Linked DNA regions of Homo sapiens: region 2 is linked to region 1. The links come from fine-mapping of genetic effects on gene expression. A gene starts in region 1. The other region holds a variant in brackets. All regions are shown on one strand. Distances are from middle to middle.

What was found. PIP is the estimated chance that this variant, and not a neighbour inherited with it, causes the effect.
Region 2: its variant is fine-mapped to the expression of CD80 in thyroid (GTEx, PIP 0.97).

Annotation. Positions count from the first base shown.
Region 1 is chr3:119,557,161-119,562,539 of GRCh38, forward strand. It overlaps CD80 (CD80 molecule), which reads right to left and starts at 2,454. Exons shown (of 7, transcript NM_005191.4): 1 at 2,280-2,454; 2 at 469-768. The coding sequence starts at 568. It overlaps LOC107986118 (a long non-coding RNA gene), which reads left to right and starts at 3,270. Exons shown (of 2, transcript XR_001740861.2): 1 at 3,270-3,585; 2 at 5,076-5,166. RefSeq lists a silencer at 762-1,056 and enhancers at 762-1,056, 1,418-1,577, 1,848-1,907, 2,678-2,727, 5,209-5,379.
Region 2 is chr3:119,645,480-119,650,858 of GRCh38, forward strand. POPDC2 (popeye domain cAMP effector 2) reads right to left here. Exons shown (of 4, transcript NM_001369919.2): 3 at 2,640-3,189. The coding sequence ends at 2,683. Among named protein-coding and RNA genes, the nearest start is that of POPDC2, 12 kb to the right of the region's middle. The variant C/T (reference allele first, on the strand shown) is at 2,557.

The DNA.
Region 1 (5,379 bases):
GAGGAATTGTCCTCAACTACTCTCCCGCCTTCAGATTGGAAAGAAGATCACCATTGTTCAATTTTAGAAGCAGGACACTTTCGCTGAGCTGTATCATGAAAACATAGTTTGGGACTAGACTCCGAGGCCAGTATCGGCACATCACAAAATGTAAATGAGCATCTAATATTCATGGAAGAGACCATTATGAATCGGCTGTATGGTTTTGTTAAAATAACACTGTCCCTTCCACGCTTCCTTGAAGGCCTGGGTTCTTGAGTTAACTTGGTTGCTAACTTGCTGTGTGATGATAGGCAGGTCCTTTAACCTCTTTGGACCACAGTCTTCTAATCTTTAAAATCTTCTGAAAACACCCTGAAGGTTCCTTCCAGCTTATAGGATAATAGAAGGGAGCAGCTCAGAGAACCCCATGTCCTTTCTCTTAACCCTGTAGCAGTTGACTCAGTTAAGTTCCTGAAAGTTGCTTACCTGAACAGAAGTGAGAAAGACCAGCCAGCACCAAGAGCTGAAAGAAATTGAGGTATGGACACTTGGATGGTGATGTTCCCTGCCTCCGTGTGTGGCCCATGGCTTCAGATGCTTAGGGTCAAAAGTGAAAGCCAACAATTTGGACCCAAGTAAGACCAGGGCACTTCCCAGGTGCAAAACAGGCAGGGCTGATGACAATCCAATTGCTCACGTAGAAGACCCTCCAGTGATGTTTACAAAACACACAGAGATTGGAGGGTGTTCCTGGGTCTCCAAAGGTTGTGGATTTAGTTTCACAGCCTGAAAAAGGAACAAATAAAAGTCATTCAGGAAGGAAGGTGTGCCTACTTTGAGTTGCAAAACTCTCGAGTTGCCTGCTAAAATTAATTGGAGAGCTTAACCTAAGCAACCTCTAAAGCAGGGCGTGACCCTGAGGAAAAGCGAATGGAAATTCTGTGAGGGGACCAGTTCCAAGAACCAACCACAGCCCTTCCATGAAAAGGCTTTCTACTTAATAGGTGGGGTGAAGATTTGGTTAGAAACAGGAGAGCTCTAAGGACCCTCCATATCTGTTAGCCAACCTGCAAAAGTTCAAATCCTCTTCTGAACATACCAAGAAACATAGAGCAGACAGTAAGGGTGTATTTTGTCCAAGGCAGGACCTAAGTTATGAAACAACTTCTTTCTTGACATATTAACATAAGAAAACAAGTATCTCAATTCTTTAAACCCTCTACTCAAATAATATATCATAAAGGGGTATGAGATCTCAATAACCAGAAAAGTCTATCCATAAAAAGGGAGGGAAAAAAAGACACTGCAGACGTTACTTATCAAAATTATGTACTCCAGGGCCAGGCGTGGTGGCTCACGCCTGTAATCCCAGCACTTTGGGAGGCTGAGGTGGGCGGATTACTTGAGGCCAGGAGTTCCAGACCAGCCTGGCCAACATGGCAAAACCCCATTTCTACCAAAAATACAAAAATTAGCCAGGTGTGGTGGTGGGTGCCTGTAATCCCAGCCACTTGGGAGGCTGAGGCACGAGAATTGCTTGAATCCAGGAGGTGGAGGCTGCAGTGAGCCAAGATGATTGCAACACTGCACTCCAGCCTAGGCGACAGAGTGAGACTCCATCTCAAAAAAAAAAAAAAAAAAAATTATGTACTGTCATGTGAGGTGGCTAGGGATTAATTTTTCCAGTAAATATGTCAAAATTGAGAAATGAAAATAAACACTGTGCTCCACTGTCACCCCTTCAGGCTGCTACCAGGACACAGCCCCGTGCTGCTCAGAGAATGCTTGAGTGTCCTCTTTGGAGACCACCCTAGAGCTAGAGTTCCAGCCACGCCATATTGTTTTATTAGCCATCATCCATTTTAGACAGGATTAGTTAAAAGAGACTTATTCACCAGAATTTGTTTTTCTTAAGATAGAATCTTGCTCTGTCACACAGGCTAGAGTGCAGTGGCGTGACCATAGCTCACCACAGTCTCAACCTCCCGAGCTCAAGCGATTTTCCCACTTTCACTAGAATTTTACTGGCTTGAGAAATTCAAATACGGCCCACAAAAACAATATTTGCTAGGATCTAGGATATTTTAAAATAATGGGCCACAATTCTCACTATGATGCTCCAAATATGTCGGGAAGCCACAGCCTCCTGTGGGAATGAGACCCTAAGGGTTCCTTTGAGGGCAAGCCTGGATCCAGGAGGTGGTAGCAGAGGTATTGTTTGTTTAAAAAGCAGTGAGGTTGCTGGTAACTAGTTCTACCAAGCTATCCCATAGTAAGATAATAGTAAATGTACTTACTTGCTGAAGAAAAATTCCACTTTTTCTTTAAATCCTTTGATTTCAGGGTAAGACTCCACTTCTGAGATGTTCTCTTCTTACAGTCTATAAAGCAATGACAAATCACTTTTTCTTTGGGTAATCTTCAGAGAGGCGACATTTCCCCTTCTAACTTCTGTTACTTTACAGAGGGTTTGAGTTCACTCAGTACTTGTCAGTGCCAGGAGTTGGACAGGGTGTTTGAAGAAGCGCCCTCTGCTGCCGTCTTCTTCTAGTTGCTTTTGTAGAGGCTGTGGCTGGGGCAAATCACACAGCAGCCTCCCTCACCACCGTGCATGGACTAACAAACATGAAACACCACGAGCACCAGGCGGCCTAGGGGAGGAGAAGAATGGTGCCCGAGAAGAGTGAGGGGCATCTGGCTAGCCTTGCTGTGTGATGGGAGGCCAGCTTCATGGGCTGGCTGTTTCTGTGCTGGTCTCAAGTTTTGTTTTAGCACCCAGAGTTACTCCTGAGTCCCTGCAGGAATAAGCTGTCAACCTCATATGTAGGGGACACTTTTGGGAGAGTGCTCAGCTCACAGGACCACCCAACTCTACTCCCACCTCTGAATCCCACCATCTTCAGAGAGTGGGCTCCTGCCAGCCACGCTGGACAGTGAATTCTGGTCACCCTAGCCACAGTTGAGTGCGCCTCTGGTGGGATGAGGAAGACTTTAGTCATGCCCATCACTCCCATTTCCAACTAGGTTGCCACCCACCCCTGTGTGTCCCTTTGTAGGATTCTGGAGCCCCTGTGAGTGAGCAGCTGACCCATGCTGGACCAGTGTACTTGTTTGCACAGGTGGAACCTGACAGCACCTTGCATGGGTTGCAGTGAGCCGAGATCACAACACTACAATCCAGCTTGGGTAACAGAGCAAGACTCCATCTCAAAAAAAAAAAAAAAAAAAAGACGCCATCCTTCCCACACCAGCCAGAAAGAGAGCAAACCGTGTGGGTGAGAAATACTGACTACAGCGGCGGCTTCCTTCATCTCAGCAACAAGTTTGTGGCAGAGCTTAGTGGATACCACCCTATTCACCTGAGATTTGGAATACTGAAGCTTTGGAAATCATGAAGGCAGAACTTGCTATGAAAGGACTCCACTGCACTGTCTCCTTCTGTATTGGCAGAAGGGGCCTAGTGAGCACCCTTCTTCACCTGTGTCTTGTTCTGGTCTCAGATGCATATTTTGAATAGTTGCAAGGAATATGGATGTGACAATTCCTGCCTTACCTCTAGTAGATCAACATTACATTTTCAAGTAAAGGGAACATAGATTGGAGGTAAGTTCATGTTTTCTATTTTCTTGAACATTTATTCAGATCAAAGAAATGTTTTCACTGATTTTAGCCACTTCTACTTGATACATTATTACAATGCACTGGAAGTGATTTTTTTTCCAGGTATTTAAAGTAATAGAAAGTTATAGATGTCAACTTAAAAGAGCAAAGAAATACAGAGTTTTAGAAATTTATTTTCTTTTTTTTTTTTTAGATGAAGTCTTTCTCTGCCGCCCAGGCTGGAGTGCAGTGGTGCAATCTTGGCTCACTGCAACCTCCGCCTCCTGGGTTCAAGCAATTCTTCTGCCTCAGCCTCCTGAGTAGCTGGGACTACAGGCGTGTGCCACCATGCCAGGCTAATTTTTAAATTTTTAGTAGAGATGGGGTTTCACCATATTGGCCAGGCTGGTCTCAAACTCCTGACCTTGTGATCCACCCTCCTCGGCCTCCCAAAGTGCTGGGATTACAGGCATGAGCCACTGCACCCAGCCGAGTTTTAGAAATTTCATGAGGGACTACATGAATACAAATTTTGACGATCACAGACACCCTCAAATTTTAAGAATCCCAGTGAAATCCTAACCTGCCTTGGAGAAACACACATTAAACAACTTTGCCATTAGCGCTTTGATGTGACTTAATCAAAGAGGCTGGAAGAAAGGAACACCAGGAAGGTACTTTACAGAGTTTCCCCAATCCTGATTGTAAAATTCAGAAGGCTTCTCTTCCAAGATTATGTACTAATGGGATGTGTTTAATTCCTCTTCCTCCTACAATGTGTCTAGGAGCATGACCTGTGGACCACAGATTTCTAAGGTAAATTTCTGGACACTGGAGGTGAGATGGATGAAGACGGGCAAAGGAAGCCGAACCCGAATACCTATATTACTGGAAAACAAAACAAAACAAAACAAAACCAAGTAAAAGATTTAAAAGGAGGCTGGGCACAGTGGCTCATGCCTGTAATCCCAGCACTTTGAGAGGCTGAGGTGGGCGGATCACTTGAGGCCAGGAGTTCGAGGCCAGCTGGCCAACGTGATGAAACCCCAGCTCTCCAAAAAAAAAAAAAAAACCAAAAAACTGGGCATAGTGGTGCATACCTGTAATCCCAGCTACTGGGAAGGCTGAGACATGAGACTTGCTTGAACTTCAGAGGCGGAGGTTGCAGTGAGCTAAGATTGTGCCATTGCACTCCAGCCTGGGTGACAGAGCAAGATTCTGTTTCAAAAACAAAACAAAACAAAACAAAAAAACTTTAAATGAGTTTGTTCTGAGGAGCAGACCCAGGGTTGGAGAAGAATAAAGCAGGAATTACTGCTCCTCAGTGTAAATTCTTTAGTGCCACTTATTTTTTTGTAAATCCATCCTTGGCTTTACTGTAATAAAAGTAAAAGAAATTCTTTTAAAAATAATTCACATAAAAATTCTTTTAAAAATTTTTATGTGAAAAATTGAAAGGATAAATTTATGAAAGTATATTTTTATAATTCTAGGGTGAGCAAGACACAAAACTTGGAAGCCACGAAAAAAGAAAAGATACACAGATTTGAATTCATAAAAATTAAAAATATTTGTACAATGAAAGACATTATAAATGAAATGAAAACACAATCACAGACTGTAGAGGACCCAGCAGGAAGAGATGACGAGAGGGAGATGCAGCTTTGTCACTCAGAGGTTGGTGCAGAGGCTGTTGCGACACCGTAGGGGAAGCCTGGCCCTTTGCTTTACCCCTGAACAGGATGATCTCTGTGGAAATGAAGGTTCCATCTTTCTGCTCTTGACCTTGGAGCCACT
Region 2 (5,379 bases), 88 kb after region 1:
GTGAACCCGGGAGGCGGAGCTTGCAGTGAGCCGAGATCGCGCCACTGCGCTGCAGCCTGGGTGACAAAGCGAGACTCCGTCTCAAACAAAAAAAAAAAAAAAAAGAAAGAAAAAGAAAAGGAAAAGGAAAAAAAAATCTGCACTGTAATCACATGGTAGGTGATAGATTCTTCACAGGCATAGAATGGAGGGAACTGCTAGTTAAACAAGACCCACCACCACAAGGGCTGAGGAGAGTCCCAAGGTGCCAGAGAAATTGTAGTGAAATATCACAGAGAGTTCTTGCTGAAAGACACTCAGATGTCCTGGGGCTTGTGTCTACTGTACTGCGGACTGACTACTCCTCTTTTCTTCCTTTGAAAAACTTATCCTTGCCTTCTCAGATCAATCCAAGGGGGTTCCTGGGGACAGCTGGTCCAACACGCTCAAATGAAGAAAGTAAGGTTTAGTGAGGTATGGTTTGCAAAAAGTCACATATTTGATTAGTAGCAAAGCCAGACATAGAAGCCAGGACTTTGGACTCCCAGTCCTGGCCTCTTTCTCATTTACCATGCTGCCTGCCTCCTGATGTTTGGAAAACATTCCTAAAGCTGGGGATTTTACACCTTCACTTGAATGGTTTTCTTTATAGGCAGAGGGAAAAGTACTGATCTTTGGAAGAGTTAGGATTAAAAACTAATAAGATGGGGGTACAGGGTGTTTAGGAGGAAGAATAGATACAGCAAGGCAAAAAAGGTGGGAAAAAGAAAAAAGGAGGTAATAGGAGAGATAAATATATGAACAATAAAATGGAAGAAAACAAGAGACAAGTGAAGAGGGAGAAATGAACTGAGAAGACATAGAAAATGGACACTTAAGAGCAGCAAACTGGCCAGGCATGGTGGCTCATGCCTGTAATCCTAACACTTCGGGAGACCAAGGCAGGAGGATTATTTGAGCCCAGGAGTTCGAGAACAACCTGGGCAACATGGGGAGAGTTTGTCTCTACAAAAAAATTTAAAAATTAAACATTATCCAGGCACAGCGACATGTGCCTGTAATCCCTGTTACTTGGGAGGCTGGGATGGGAGGATCGCTTGAGCTTTTGGAGGTAGAGATTGCAGTGAGCCGACATCATGCCACTGCACTCCATCCTGAGTGACAGAGTGAGACCCTGTCTCAAGAAAGAAAAGGAAAAAAGAACAGAACATCAAACTGAGGCAATCAAGGACTGAGAAGAAATTGGAGAAGAAAGAAGAGAAAAATAGAACCAAGAAAAGAGAAGAAAACCAGGAAGAACAACATGAGAAAACAGAGAGCTGCTGTGAGTCGAAGAGAGAGTGTATAGGTGGATGGGCAAGTTGGACCAAGAGGGATCCATAGGACATAAGGAGCATGCGTGGATGCAGGATGAACGAGTAGGAAGGCGAACAGCTGCACAGAGGGAAAGGAGTGATCAGAGTTGTCAATGCACACTTCGGGGAACTCAACAAAGTGATCTGGGGTGTTAGATTGATCCTTGGAATTACCTCAGAATGAGCTGAACTATGGTTCTAAGGATGCTGGTAACACAGGAGATTGTAAATTCCATATCTACAAAACTAAATCTCTAACCTTTCATCAGTCATCTCTATGGCCTCTTTCATCATTTATATAACCTGTTTTTCAAAATAGACAAACATTCACTCATTCATTTCATGTACTCTGGAGGCCTTCCTCACTGGGCTAGTTTCTCAGGTAATTTATTGGTGCTTTCTGAAGAACCATGGGAGGCGCCTTCCAAATTGGGAACAATGGGATTTTCCTCAGGAAATTCAGGCCTACATCATGGTTGGGTGGAGTTACAGAGAAAAACATCACAGTATTATGAGGGCAGCCAGGGAAACATGAGAGCAATTTCCCAGAACCACTGGGCACAGCCTTTCTTGTAGACTCTCTGGGAGGGAAATTCTGTGAGGGAAATCCTGCACGCACTGTTAGGCCCTCCAGGATTTATGCACATCCTACCTCCCACAGGTGTGGGTGACTGGGGAAAGCCAGGCTGCCATATACCTATCTGATCATAGTAACATTTAATCATAGCAGTATCTAGTCCTCTGTCTGTGTGATCAACAAACACATTCTCCACTGGGTGAGAGGAAAGCAAGATGAGGACATTTTCCTCCCCGAGCTATTAGCTCATAATCACAATCCTCTTTAAAATATGCAGTTTTAACAGAGATGCCTGCCCAGTCTAGGCTAAATAACAACTGCTTTCCAGGACGGGCTCTGTATCAGGAAAGACAAGCAATCAGAATTAGAACCCTGCCACATTCTTTTTCTTTTAAAATGCATGCCACAAATAAAAGCCCCTTAAGCCCCAGCTGTGGCCTCAGCTATTAGAATAAACTTGCAAAAAAACAGCAATCTACCTTCCTGCTCAACGTATCAACCAGCCCACTTTCTAAAATGCAATCAAGTTAATAACGAATGAGTTTTTAAAATCCCTTCATGCCTTGCATGCACCCGGAGTGAGTTGCTATCTTCAAAGTTGGGTTAATGCCACTTTCTGTGAGTCCTCTAAGAGGAAATGTTCCA[C/T]GAATGATTTTTTTTGCCCTAACAAGCTGAGTTAAGGCCAGCCATTGACAGGAATGTGCAGCGGCTGCCTTCTGAGTACTTACATAGGATCCTGAGCCGGTGGCTGTGCCCATGTTAGTTCTCCCTTCACCTCATGTACTCCCCATCACTCCTATAATCCATAAACGATTCTGATCCTGACACCTCCTCAAAATCCTCCAGCACCAGACTGGTGGAGTCCTCACCCAGTATGCCACTGTCTGGCCTGGACAACCTGGCCCGGGTAGGAGGTGCAGGAAAGTTGGTGGTAGCTGGAGGGGTAGAACAAGGGGGTGTTTGCTGGAGAGAGGTGGGTGTGGCCTGAGGAGGGGACACAGCTGGCTCACAGACTTCCTCATCACCCTTCTCGGACTCTGGTCCAGCATCTGCAGCAGTGGGACCCAGGACATGGTAGAGGCTGGGAAGGCGGATGTCAAAGCGCAGCCCAAACTTAGCAAAGAGCTTGTCATTGAGAGTGTAGAGCTTCTCTGAGATGTCATATCCCAGCAGAGCCGAGAAGAGGCAGGAGATGTATCGCTCTTTGGTCAGAAGAAGATGGAGACTTTTCCGGGGCCAGGAAATGTAGCTACATGAGGTCTCAGCAGTCAGAGTGACCTGAGAGGGGTCAGAAGCAGACAATAAAAGTTTAAACTAGAAAATTTGTCCATGCTGAGCACAGAGATCATTCAGTCACTTGGCAAACAGCTGTACTTTTACTGAAGAAGCTGTGTGGGAGTACCCCTCTATGGCCTTGCCTGGAGGAGGTCTAGTGGATGACTTTCACTTGTGTGCACTGATATGGGGGGGTCCTGTGTCAGGAGCCCTGGGATCAGCCATTCACTCACTCACCCATCACCTCCTGAAGCCTCAGTTTCCACATCCACTTTCCTCAACTGTAATTCTGTGGTTCCGTGGCTAATGCCACTAATGACTGCAGAAAGTTCTGAGTCTTATGATTTTAAGATAGAGAAAGAAGGGGCCTTCTTGTGCTCTGAAGAGTGGTTGAAATGCTGACAACTATTCATTTTAAGAATGAGGAAGGGTAAGATATTGGGGTAGGGACATAAAAAGAGTTGGAAAGTTGAGTTTGAGAAAAAGCTTCTGATGAGGTATGCCAAGCTACATCAGGATCCCAAGCCTGGGATTCAGGTTGGGATACGAGCAAGTTACGAAATTGCTCGTAACTTGGCCATTTCAAGTAACCAAAAGGATCTGATGACTGAAATCAGAAAAAGGGCATAGCGGAAGACAAACTCTAAAGGGTAGAAAATCAAAGGGCACCCCATTCTCCATTTGTTTATTCATCTAGGAATTTCTGAGTACTCACTATGTGCCCATGATGCAAAGCTAAATTACGCTTGCATGGGAAATAAGCAATAACGTGTGCCTAGCATGCAGCAGGTGTTTGATAAATCCTTGTTAAAATAATGATAAGTGGTAAAGCTGGGGTTAAAATGGAAACATGCTTAGGACAGTGCAGGAAAAGGGTGCAGAATCACACAATTTTTAATAATCTAATTGACCCTAATACTTTGGGCTGGCAGAGTTCATGATATATTTTTGTGGATGGAGACAGTGGAAATGATGATGATAATGATGTTAGCAGCTAATATTTGTCAAGAGGTGCCAGGCGTTGTGTTAAGCACTTTATATGAATTGTCAAATTTAAAGTAGGGTAGCTTTCCAAACATTCTTTATTAGAGATTATATATAATCCTTTTCATTCCTGTATTGCCTACTGGATCTCCCATTACCCTCCTCTTCTCTTCTTTCCTTTCTGCTATACCCCTCCCCCACGTCCTTTATTCATTTCCTCCTCTCAACTTTTCTCCACTAATTGCTAGCACTGCAATCAGGACCTAAACTACGTTATCGAGGCCAGAAGTGGTTTCATGTTTCAGCTTTACCTCTATCAGTTGTATGATGTCAGATAAATTACTTAATCTCTCTTGCCTCATGAGAAAGAATTCTGAAAATAATACAATCTGTCCATTACTAATAGTTCAGCAAGTAGTTGTCACATCTGCCATGGCCTGTACCTTAGATGTACTTATGAACAATTCCCAAACAAGAAATCAGAGTACCAAATATGAAGCACATGTGTTTGAGCAAGAACTACGCCGAATGTAAATAATGTCTTAAAGCCAAACACAAAGACTGTGAACCTTCTTAGAAATATGCTGTACTTCTTCCATCTTAAAATAAAACAAAATTTTACAAATAAAAATTCTTTTTCTCGAATTCACTTCCCTGGCTAGCTATCACTCCACTAATTTGCTTCCCTTTTTAGCAAAACTCATGAAGAAAAAAAAACCTGTTTATACTTAACTGTCTCCAATTCCTCTCTTCTCACTCTCTTAAACCAATAAGACTTTGTCCCTAGCAGTCCACAAAGACTGTTCCTGTTAAGGTCACCAATGACCTCTAAGCTGCTGAGTCTGATGGTCAGTTTTCATGGCATCCATCAATTTCCCCTTCCTCTTTGATATATCTTCTTCACTTGGTTCCCAGGATGCCATACACTCCTTGCCCAATCTCATGATTGTTCCTTTTCAAGCTCCTTTGCTGCTTCCTCCTTTCCTCTCCAACTCCTCACCACTAAAGTATCCCAGGGCTCCGCTCTTGAACCATTCCCTCTTCCATCCACACTCACTCACTTGGTGAGCTCATCCTATCCAATGGCTTTAAATATCATCTGCATACAACCAACTCCCAAATTTATGTCTCAGGCCCAGATCTCATTCCTGAATTTCAGACTTAAATATCCAGTTGCCTATGCAGCATCTCCATTCAAATGTCCACAGA